Regions from separate parts of the Homo sapiens genome. Here region 1 is linked to region 2. Evidence: fine-mapped expression QTL. A gene starts in region 2. The other region holds a variant in brackets. All regions are shown on one strand. Distances are between the middles of the regions. Region 1 overlaps MAFF (MAF bZIP transcription factor F). Region 2 holds the start of EIF3L (eukaryotic translation initiation factor 3 subunit L).

Region 1 (5,206 bases), 360 kb after region 2:
GAGCTCCACAACACATGGAGAAAAAGGCCTGGGAACCCCAGAGAAACAGGAAGCCAGGGCAGGGGCTGGGGGAATCTTGAAGCAGTCTCCCAAAAGCGAGCAAATCCTTCAGGACTCAGGCAACTTCCTCCCTCACACACACAGGCATGCACTGCCCGCTTGTCCCTTTGGGAAACATTCAGGGATAGTAGAATTTGCTGTCTGTTCATTCATCTGTTAGCATACGATCCTGGGAGAGAGTGGACAGGAATACGGTTGAGGCCTGAGGACCCTACTGTGTTGGCTTGCGGGGAGGCTGGCATTGCAGGGTTTTGAAATGGGCCAAGCACGGACAGGCTCGTGGGTTTGTGTCAGTAGTGATTCCTCTGACAGCTCTTGGGGGAGGATCAATGATGGGGATTGGAGACGGAGGGCAAGGCAAGAGGCTGGTGAGCAGGCGGTTGTGGTCATGGTCCAGATGAAGGAGGAAGTGGTCTGTGGCTGTGCAGGTGGAGAAGAGGGCTAGTCTGATAGTCTGATAGTTTGTGTCTCATGCCCCCACCTCCAGGAAGCCTTCACCGCTTTCCTTTCCCTACCTCCATTCTGCTGGTGGTCTTGGAGCTCTGGGCCAGAATCTGAAACTCTAAACTCAGAGACAGTCATTGTTGGAAGGTACCTTAGGCTCGGAGGACGTTTGGCATAGTGGGAAAACTGAGGCCCAGAGAGAGGGAGTGCCGTACCTGAGGCCACACAGCGAGTGTGAGAGGGTACCTGAACTGGGGCTGGAACCCCAGGCCGTTGCTTCTCTGTGGTGCTTGGTTCTTCCAGCCTTGCTCCCCTTCCAGCAGGGAGGAGGCTCCAGCAGTGCTGACTGCCAAGAGCTAGGAAAACACATTTTTTCCCTGTCCTCACAGAGCGAGCAGAATGGCTCAGCAGCCAGAAAGGAGCCCATGCCAGCGGGTGGGCCTTCTACAGGATGTCTCTGGAGTGGACTGGTGGGGCCAGGGAGGGGGACGTTGGAGGGTTGTGGCTGCTGACTGGACAAGGCAGTTGTCAGTCCCTCAAGAGTCACCTCTCTCCTTATGCCTCCAGAAGACGTCATGAACCTGCAGACCCTGGAGGTCAGCTCTGCTGGCTTCCAAGGGAAGAAGCCAGGGAGAGGTGGTGGTGGCCGACATAGAAGACAGAGGACCCCTGGGTTCCAGTCCGCCACGGCTACCAAACAGTGGCTTGGTTGCCTCAGGTGCTGAACAGGGGATCGGATCAGCTACTATTTCTCAGGCCCAGGGTCAGCCAGCCTGGCAAAGGCAGAGGACCCAGGCCCCTTGGCAGCCCCTGGCCTGGGGTTGGCAGCGGAAAGCCTGAGGTTACCAGAAAGTTCCCCCTTCTTGTGACTTTCCCCCTGTGATTGCCTGACTGCTGAGCTAGGACATTCCTGGGCAAACGTGGGTGCCTCAGCTGACATCCAGGATGCGGTTGAGGGGGCTGAGGCTCGGACAGGAGGGCATGGAGGAGTGGGGGAAGAGCAGGTTCAAAACCTTCCTAGCACCTGAGGGTATTTACAATCACAGCCAGCTTCCGCTATTATCAAGGATAGGGAATGGCTGATGGTTCCATCTCTCAGGCCTGGTCTGGAGGCAGTGTTGAGGATTCTAGGCTGTGTCCAAGCTCAGGAGAAAACAGTTCTGTGCTGAGAAAGACTCAGGGGCTGTGGCCTGCCTCACTGGGAATTGGTGCTGTGTGTGGTTAGTGATGTCTCTGTTGCTTGTGGATAGTGGGATGATGGTGAGATGAGGTGATCTTTCTTGCCTATGCCTCCTTTTTTTTTTTTTTTTTTTTTGATGGAGTCTCGCTCTGTTGCCCAGGCTGGAGTCCAGTGGCTTGTTCTCAGCTCACTGAAACCTCCACCTCCCGGGTTCATGCAATTCTTCTGCCTCAGCCTCCCAAGTAGCTGGGACTATAGGTGTGCGCCACCACACCTGGCTAATTTTTGCATTTTTTTTTTTCTTTAGTAGAGACAGGATTTCACCATGTTGGCCAGGCCGTTCTTGAACTCCTGGCCTCAGATGATCTGCCCACCTTGGCCTCCCAAAGTGCTGGGATTACAGGCGTGAGCCACCACGCCTGGCCTTGCCTAAGCCTTTATATTTTACACACCAAGATTATTGTGATTATTCCCACTTAGCAAGGAATCCAGGACTCAGGAAAAATGACTTGTGCATGAGGCCAGACTGTGCCTCTGAGGTTCTGTATCAGCCGCAACACCCAAAGGGCAGTTGATTAACTTGCGTGGGGAGAGGCTTCCCTTCTCCCATTGGGTCTTTCTGTGTAGCTCAGGTGGCCAAGCATCACTGCACGTGCCAGCTCCCCAAACGGCTGGTAAGGGGGCCTGGATACTTAACTGTAACTTGCAAATCGTATCCCTAGCGGGCCCAACACAAATCCTGGAGAATCAGAGCTGGGGTGGCCTTGGAAACTGGCAAGTCCAGCTTCATCTTCACAGGGCTAGGGAAACAGGGCCCAGGGAGGTCGCCCTGCCAGGGCCACACAGGGAGGAGGTGTGTGGCTCCATGTGGCCTCAGGCCTGAATTCTATTATTATTATTATTATTATTTTTGAGATGGAGTCTTGCTCTGTCACCCAGGCTGGAGTGCAGTCGCGTAATCTCGGCTCACTGCAACCTCTGCCTCCCAGGTTCTAAGCGATTCTCCTGCCTCAGCCTCCTGAGTAGTTGGGACTACAGGTGTGTGCCACCAGGCCCAGCTAATTTTTTGTATTTTTAGTACAGACAGGGTTTCACTGTGTTAGCCATGATGGTCTCAGTCTCCTGACCTCATGATCCGCCCACCTCGGCCTCCCAAAGTGCTGGGATTACAGGCATGAGCCACCTTGCTTGGCCATCTTTTTTTTTTTTTTTTTTTTTTTTTTTTTTTTTTTGAGACAGAGTCTCGCTCTGTCACCCAGGCTGGAGTGCAGTGGCGCGATCTCAGCTCACTGCAAGCTCCATCTCCGGGTTCACGCCATTCTCCTGCCTCAGCCTCCCCAGTAGCTGGGACTACAGGCGCCCACCACCACACCCGGCTAATTTTTTTTTTAAGAGGC[G/A]GGGTCTTGCTTTGTCACCCAGGGAGTGCAGTGGCGGGATCACAGCTCACTGCCGCCTTGAATTCCTGGGCTCAATGGTTCCTCCTGCCTCAGCCTCCTGAGTAGCTGGGGCTATAGGTGTGCACCACTGCACCCGGCTAATCTTTTTATTTTTTGGAGATGGAGTCTAGCCATCTTGCCCAGGTTGGTCTTGAACTCTCAGGCCTGAATTCTACCCCATGCTGGCTGTATGAGCCTGGACTACTCTATTGTCCTCTCTGGGCATTACCTCAGGGTTGGGCGAACCAGGGAGGTGACGGTGTGAAGGGACCAGGTTTCAGTCCTGGGCCTTTGCAGCTATTCATTCACACCTATTGTGTGACTTCAGGCAAGTGCTGCCCCTCTCTGGGTCTCTACCTCCCCTTGGGTAAAGGGAGGAGGCAGGACCTGATGGCCTCTAAGGGCCTTTCCTGCAGTTCCCTGTGTGACCCCAGCCAGCTGGGAGATGCTAAATCAGAGCGAGACCCCAGTGCTGGCTACAGGCCTGACCCCTCCTGGACAGACAGCAATTCTAACCTCCCAGCTGCTCACTGACCTCTACAGTGTATACCACTTGATTCCACCAAAACCCTGCGAGGCAGGTATTGTTCCGATCCTTTAGATGGGAAAGTGGAGACCCAGAGAGATGGAGTGGCTCACCCCAGGTCACACAGCCTGAGAAAACAGAGATGCGACTTAAACCCAAGCTTGACTCCCAATCCAGTGCTCCTTTCCCTGTTTCCCACACCCCACCTTTGGGCCCAAAGTCACGTGGATGGGATCCCCTCTGCTCTCTTCCCATTCGCCTAGCATCTGTACTGTCTCTGCCAACAGGCCCAAGGAAGCAGCTGGAGAGGAGGAAGAATTAGAGACAGGGCCAGGAGGTACTGAACTACGTTTCGGCTTGGAACCCGGCTTGGTGACAAGCTGGGTGATGGCGTCAGAGACTCTGACCATCCACCCTTCCCCAGTGCCTGCTCCCTGCCAGGTCTTGAGATGGGTGGCCTCAAGCACCCAGAGCTGACTCAGCCTCTCCCTGTCTGGTGGAGAGACAGCAAGGAAATACAACCCATTACACACAGGGGTGGGGGTCCCTAACAAGTCCTAGGGATCAGGGAGGGCTTCCTGGAGGAGGAGATGTCTGCACCCAGGGCCGAAGGATGAGTAGGAGTCTGCCAAACAAAGTAGAGGGGAGTGAGGGGAGAGAAATATCATGGGGTGGGAGGTGGCTCAGAGGCAAGAAAGCGCGGGTGGGAGGAAGTGAAAGAAATTCTGTGTGGCTGGAGCACAGAGTGGAGGTGGCAGTGGTGGGAAATGGGCGTGGGGCTGGACACACAGGGCCTGGGGTGCTGGGAGGGTGGGTCTGGACTCCATCCTTAGGATAGTAGGGAACCATGGAAGGTTTTTTTTTTGTTTGCTTGTTTGTTTTTGTGTTTGTTTTTGAGATGGAGTATCACTCTGTCGCCCAGGCTGGAGTGCAGTGTCGCGATCTCGGCTCACTGCATGCTTCACCTCCCGGGTTCACGCCATTCTCCTGCCTCAGCCTCCTGATAGCTGGGACTACAGGTGCCTGCCACCACACCCGGCTAATTTTTTGTATTTTTTAGTAGAGACGGGGTTTCACCATGTTAGCCAGGATGGTCTCAATCTCCTTACCTTGTGATCCGCCCGCCTCAGCCTCCTAAAGTGCTGGGATTATAGGCATGAGCCACCTTGCCCAGCCGAACCATGGAAGGCTTTAATCTGGCTGGTGGCATGGTCAGATTCGCGTGGTGCAAAGATTGTCCAGCTGCTGTGTGGGAATGAGCTGAGACCAGCAGGGAGGTGTGCTGGGACCTCCCCAGGTGTGTGTAGGGTGGTGAGGGTGACCACTTAAGAGGCCTGCATTGGGTTGGGCGTGGTGGCTCACACCTGTAATCCCGGCACTTCAGGAGGCCGAGGCAGGTGGATCACCTGAGGTTAGGAGTTCGAGACCAGCCTGACCAATATGGTGAAACTCTGTCTCTACTAAAAATACAAAAATTAGCTGGGCGTGGTGGTAGGCGCCTGTAGTCCCAGCTATTCAGGAGGCTGAGGCAGAGCTAATCGCTTGAACCCAGGAGGCGGA
Region 2 (5,206 bases):
CACTGCAAGCTCCGCCTCCCGGGTTCACGCCATTCTCCTGCCTCAGCCTCCCAAGTAGCTGGGACTACAGGCGCCCGCCACTACGCCCGGCTAATTTTTTGTATTTTTAGTAGAGACGGGGTTTCACCATTTTAGCCGGGATGGTCTCGATCTCCTGACCTCATGATCCACCCGCCTCGGCCTCCCAAAGTGCTGGGATTACAGGCGTGAGCCACCGCGCCCGGCCAATTTCTTTTCTTTTTTCTTTTTTTTTTTGAGGCAGTTTTGCTCTTGTTGCCCAGGCTGGAGTGCAGTGGTGCAATCTTGGCTCACCACAACCTCCGCCTCCTAGGTTCAAGTGATTCTCCTGCCTCAGCCTCCCGAGTAGCTGGGACTACAGGCATATGCCACCATGCCCGGCTAATTTTATATTTTTAGTAGAGACGGGGTTTCACTATGTTGGCCAGGCTGGTCTCGAACTCCTGACCTCAGGTGATCCATCTGCCTTGGCCTCCCAAAGTGCTGGGATTACAGGTGTGAACCACTGTGCCAGGCCTCGGAGAAGGGTTATTATTTAAACTAGAAACTAAATGTCTCCCAAAGTTAGCTCGGTTCGAGCCAGGAATGATTAAGGGCAGTCTGAAGATTAAATGGAAGATGAGGGTTGGTTAGATCAGATCTCTTTCACTGTCATTATTTTCTCACTGTTACAATTTTTGCAAAGGTGGTTTCAGCAATAAAAATATTTCACAAATTTTACAAAAGCAAAGGACCATGAGGACATTGTTGGGGACCCTCCCTGAACCAAGGAAGAGACTGTGACTCTTCCTTGGTTCAGGGAAGGTCCTGAACCAAATCGAGGGTCGGTAAAGCTTAAGCTCCATTATTTCCAAATTTGTGTCACCTCTGGTGACAGCACAAGGAAGAAACACAAAACAAGAACGCAGCATAGGGAGTTGGGGCTGGGCATTGCAATTCTCAATAGGATGTTGAGTGGATGGCATCAGAGCAGACACCTGAAGGTGCCATGCAGATACCGATGGGGAAGGGAATGGGAGTGGGGGTGCCACTGCATTCGATTCTAGACTTGGATAACAGTGAGTGCAAAATCCCAGAGGTGGAGCGTGCCTCAGTGGGAAAAGCAAGGAGGGCGGCGTGACAAAGGGACCCAGAGAGTCCTGGTCACACAGCAAATCAGTGGCGGAGTAGGGACTGGAACTCGGATTTCCACTAGGTGTTGTGTATGGGCAGATGGCTAAACTAAGGCCTCTCCTTGACTCATACACCGGTTTTTATTGGTTTGCTTTATAACCCCATCTCTACCTTGAGGGTTTCCCCTGGCCTCGAACCCGGTGTACTCAAGAGCTGCCCATGTCCCAGGCTTCGCGACACAGCTGGCCTCATCTTTGCCTGCTCCAACTTTAATGTCCAAAGTTGGGTGGCTCCTGTTCTCCATTCCCTCTTACTGCATGGGACCAAATCTCAATTTTTTTTTTTCTTTTTTTTTTTAGACGGAGTCTTGCTCTGTCGCCCAGGCTGGAGTGCAGTGGCGCGATCTCGGCTCACTACAGCCTCTGCCTCTCAGGTTCCACCGATTCTCCTGCTTCAGCCTCCTGAGTAGCTGGGATTACAGGCGGACGCTACCACTCCCGGCTAATTTTTGTATTTTTAATAGAGACGGGGTTTCGCCATTTCGGCCAGGCTGGTCTCGAACTCCTGATCTCAGATCATCCACCCGCCTCGGCCTCCCAAAGTGTAGGGATTACAGGCGTGAGCCATCGCGCCCGGCCAAATCTCAATTTTTATCCCCAGTAAGTTTAGTCTTGTGAAGTCCGAACGTTTGAATAATTTACTCGCTGCAGGCAAACCGCCTACAACTAAATCCATCAGGCCCCCGTATCCGAATCTTCCTTCACGCGAGAAGCCGGCCATCTTTTGTGTAGCATTCTTTCTGGTTCCTCTAACTTTGCCTCTCCTTTACGCCAAATACGTGTCCTTATATCTGAATCTACACCACTATTATAGATTCACCTTCTTTGAGAAGTCCCTATTTGAAGAGAGGAAAATTCAGGCTACTTGTAACCCTCTTATTCTTTTTAGACGGAGTTTTCCCTCTTGTTGCCCAGGCTAGAGTGCAATGGCGCGATCTCGGCTCACCGCAACCTCCGCCTCCCGGGTTCAAGCGACTCTCCTGCCTCAGCCTCCCGAGTAGCTGGAATTACAGGCATGCGCCACCACTCCCGGCTAATTTTGTATTTTTAGTAGAGACGGGGTTTCTCCATATTGGTCAGGCTGGTCTCAAACCCCCGGCCTCAGCCTCAGGTGATCCGCCCGCCTCGGCCTCCCAAACTGGTGGGGTTACAGGTGTGAGCCACGGAACGCGGCTCCTCTTCCTTCTGGATATGGCTGTCTCAGATGGCCAGAGGCCTCGGAAAGGCTTCCGGTTTCCCGGCAGGCCCGAGTGGGGCTGAACTTCCGGCCTCAGGACGCAGGCGCGGGCCGCTCATTTCGCTCTTTCCGGCGGTGCTCGCAAGCGAGGCAGCCATGTCTTATCCCGCTGATGATTATGAGTCTGAGGTAAGGTGGCCGTAAGGGCGCGGTGGGCTCCACGACGGGGTGATCTCTGGGACCACTGGATGTGGGTCCCGGCGCGAGGCAGCTTCCGGGTCGCGGCCAGCTCCGGCCGACCTCCCGCCCGGCCCTCAGGCTGCTCCCACAGTTCCCGGTCCCTAGACAACCCTGGCTCTGCCCGCCCACTTCGCGTGTTCGATTGGCTTGTCCTTCCCCTTTCTAAGACCGGAGACTAAGGCCTGTTAGACGTTTCTGTGTTTCTGCACCTGAGTTTTTTTGGTCTAGGCTCCGTCTGGTCAAATCTCGCTGATTCCCACAGCCTCTTGTCCTTTGCTCCACCTCATTGCACCCGTAATGTTGTATTGTCATTGTCTGTTTACTGTCCCTTTTCTCTAAGGCGTGTGAGTTCCTCAAAGGCAGGCACAGTGTCTTATTCGCCTCTGTATCCTTAGCTCTCTGCTTGGCATCTAGACTCTAGGATGAGCGTTTTGAATTCACGACTTGGCGGCTGTCCTTGACTGTGTCTCTTTCCTTCTAGGCGGCTTATGACCCCTACGCTTATCCCAGCGACTATGATATGCACACAGGTGAGACCACGGGTTAGGCTGGCTGAGTACTCGTAGGGATCAGTTCCTTTGGAATGTCTTAGAACCAGCTCTGACAGGCATCAAAAATTGCTCTTTGATGGTCCAGGTTTGGAGTCAGTCATTAGCTGCCAGTGCGAGGGGTTTTATAAAGCCTAATAAACCAGGCTTTTTATCATAGTCCACCTCAGTCTTGGAAGAGAAGGATTACTTACCTGGCTATGGTTTTCTTGTGTAAACTATTAGCCAAATAAGAAAAGCTTTTTTGTTTTTGTTTTTGTTTTTGTTTTTGAGATGGAGTTTCCCTCTGTCCCCCAGGCTGGAGTGCAGTGGTGCGATCTCGGCTCACTGCAACCTCCGCGTCCCTCGTTCAAGCAGTAGTTCTCTTGTCTCAGCCTCCTGAGTAGCTGGGATTACAGGCGCCCACCACCATTCCCAGCTAATTTTTAAATTTTTTTAATAGAGACGAGGTTTCGCCGTGTTGTCCAGGCTGGTCTTGAACTCCTGACCTCAGGTGATCCACCCGCCCCAACCTCCCAAAGTGCTGGGATTACAGGCGTGAGCCACCGCGCCTGCCCCAAGGAAGAAAATCTTGATGTGAAAAATTTAAGTAATTCAAACCAAGCCCGAATGAAATCTTTTTAGGAGGTGTCTGAGGTTTCCTGAAACGTTATAGTGACTTGACTTAGTAGTCAGTGTTATCCATTGTTCTAAGTACTTTGTATGAAATATTTTGTTTAATCCTTACAGCAGTTCTGTATGTTAATGTCTCCTAAAGAATAGAAAATATAGCAGAGAGGTTTATTAGTAGTAACTTGGCACAGTCATATATTTAAAAGGTGACAGTTATTCATTCAAGAAATATTAAGTACCTGTTACCACTTACTTTCCAACAGTCTTGCCTCTCTCCCCTCCAACGCACACTTTTCTAGGCCCTGAGGGTATGTCTGAGTACAAGACAGACGAGATTCCTGACTTCCTAGACTTGGGAGAAGGGTGCAAAACAGATAATAAGTGAAAAATAACTTTAAGTCATGGTAATATTTTTGAAGAAACAGGGACAACGAGATTGGGAGTGACTTGAGATGTTTGTATCTCTGAGTATTCAAAAGGGAATTTTACGCAGACCTGAGTTTAGTTTCTGGGGTGGTCTTGCCATTTCGTTCTATCATATATGTGGGTTTGAGCATACTCTGTATTTGTTGTATCCAACCTCCAGGAGATCCAAAGCAGGACCTTGCTTATGAACGTCAGTATGAACAGCAAACCTATCAGGTGATCCCTGAGGTGATCAAAAACTTCATCCAGTATTTCCACAAAACTGTCTCAGATTTGATTGACCAGAAAGTGTATGAGCTACAGGCCAGTCGTGTCTCCAGTGATGTCATTGACCAGAAGGTGTATGAGATCCAGGACATCTATGAGAACAGGTATGGGCTACTGGCTGAAAGGGCCTCTTTCTGGGTGGGACTGGCCTGGTAATATAGTTCCTACAAATGAGGTGAGCACTCTGTAAACAGTACTTTCGGGGGGGTTGGGGGGTGGGGGTCTTTGTGAGTCCTTGAGGCTAGGGACATTTTATTTTGTTAGACTTTATTTTATTTATGCATTTGTTTATTTTTTGAAACGGAGTGTCACTCTGTCGCCCAGGCTGGAGTGCAGTGGCAAGATCTCGGCTCACTGCAACCTCCGCCTCCTGGGTTCAAGTGATTCTCCAGCCTCAGCTTCCCGAGTAGCTGGGACTACAGGCATGTGCCACCATGCCTAGTTAATTTTTTTGTATTTTTAGTAGAGACAGAATTTCACCATGTTGGCCAGGCGTGTGTTGAACCCCTGACCTCAAGTGATCCACCCGCCTCAGCCTCCCAAAGCACTGGGATTACAGGTGGGAGCCACCATGCCTGGCCTAATTTTTGTATTTTTAGTAGAGACGGGGTTTCATCATGTTGGCCAGGCTGGTCTTGAACTTCTGACCTCAAGTGATGTACCCCCGTTGGCCTCCCAGAGTGCTAGGATTACAAGCGTGAGCCACCATGCCCGGCCTGTTGGACTTTATATCCTCAGAAATTTAT

The links. PIP is the estimated chance that this variant, and not a neighbour inherited with it, causes the effect.
Region 1: its variant is the best candidate, but not a certain one, in a credible set for the expression of EIF3L in whole blood (TOPMed, PIP 0.61).

What each region holds. Positions count from the first base shown.
Region 1 is chr22:38,204,543-38,209,748 of GRCh38, forward strand. The region is part of intron 1 of MAFF (MAF bZIP transcription factor F); the gene reads left to right. Among named protein-coding and RNA genes, the nearest start is that of MAFF, 5.2 kb to the left of the region's middle. RefSeq lists enhancers at 1-118, 2,958-3,102, cis regulatory regions at 46, 3,023-3,040 and a silencer at 259-308. The variant G/A (reference allele first, on the strand shown) is at 3,082.
Region 2 is chr22:37,846,927-37,852,132 of GRCh38, forward strand. It overlaps EIF3L (eukaryotic translation initiation factor 3 subunit L), which reads left to right and starts at 2,493. Exons shown (of 13, transcript NM_016091.4): 1 at 2,493-2,556; 2 at 3,089-3,137; 3 at 4,354-4,564. The coding sequence starts at 2,524. MIR659 (microRNA 659) reads right to left here and starts at 848; the gene lies at 752-848. It also overlaps a transcript of ANKRD54 not described here. RefSeq lists enhancers at 1,612-2,134, 2,135-2,657, 2,658-3,179.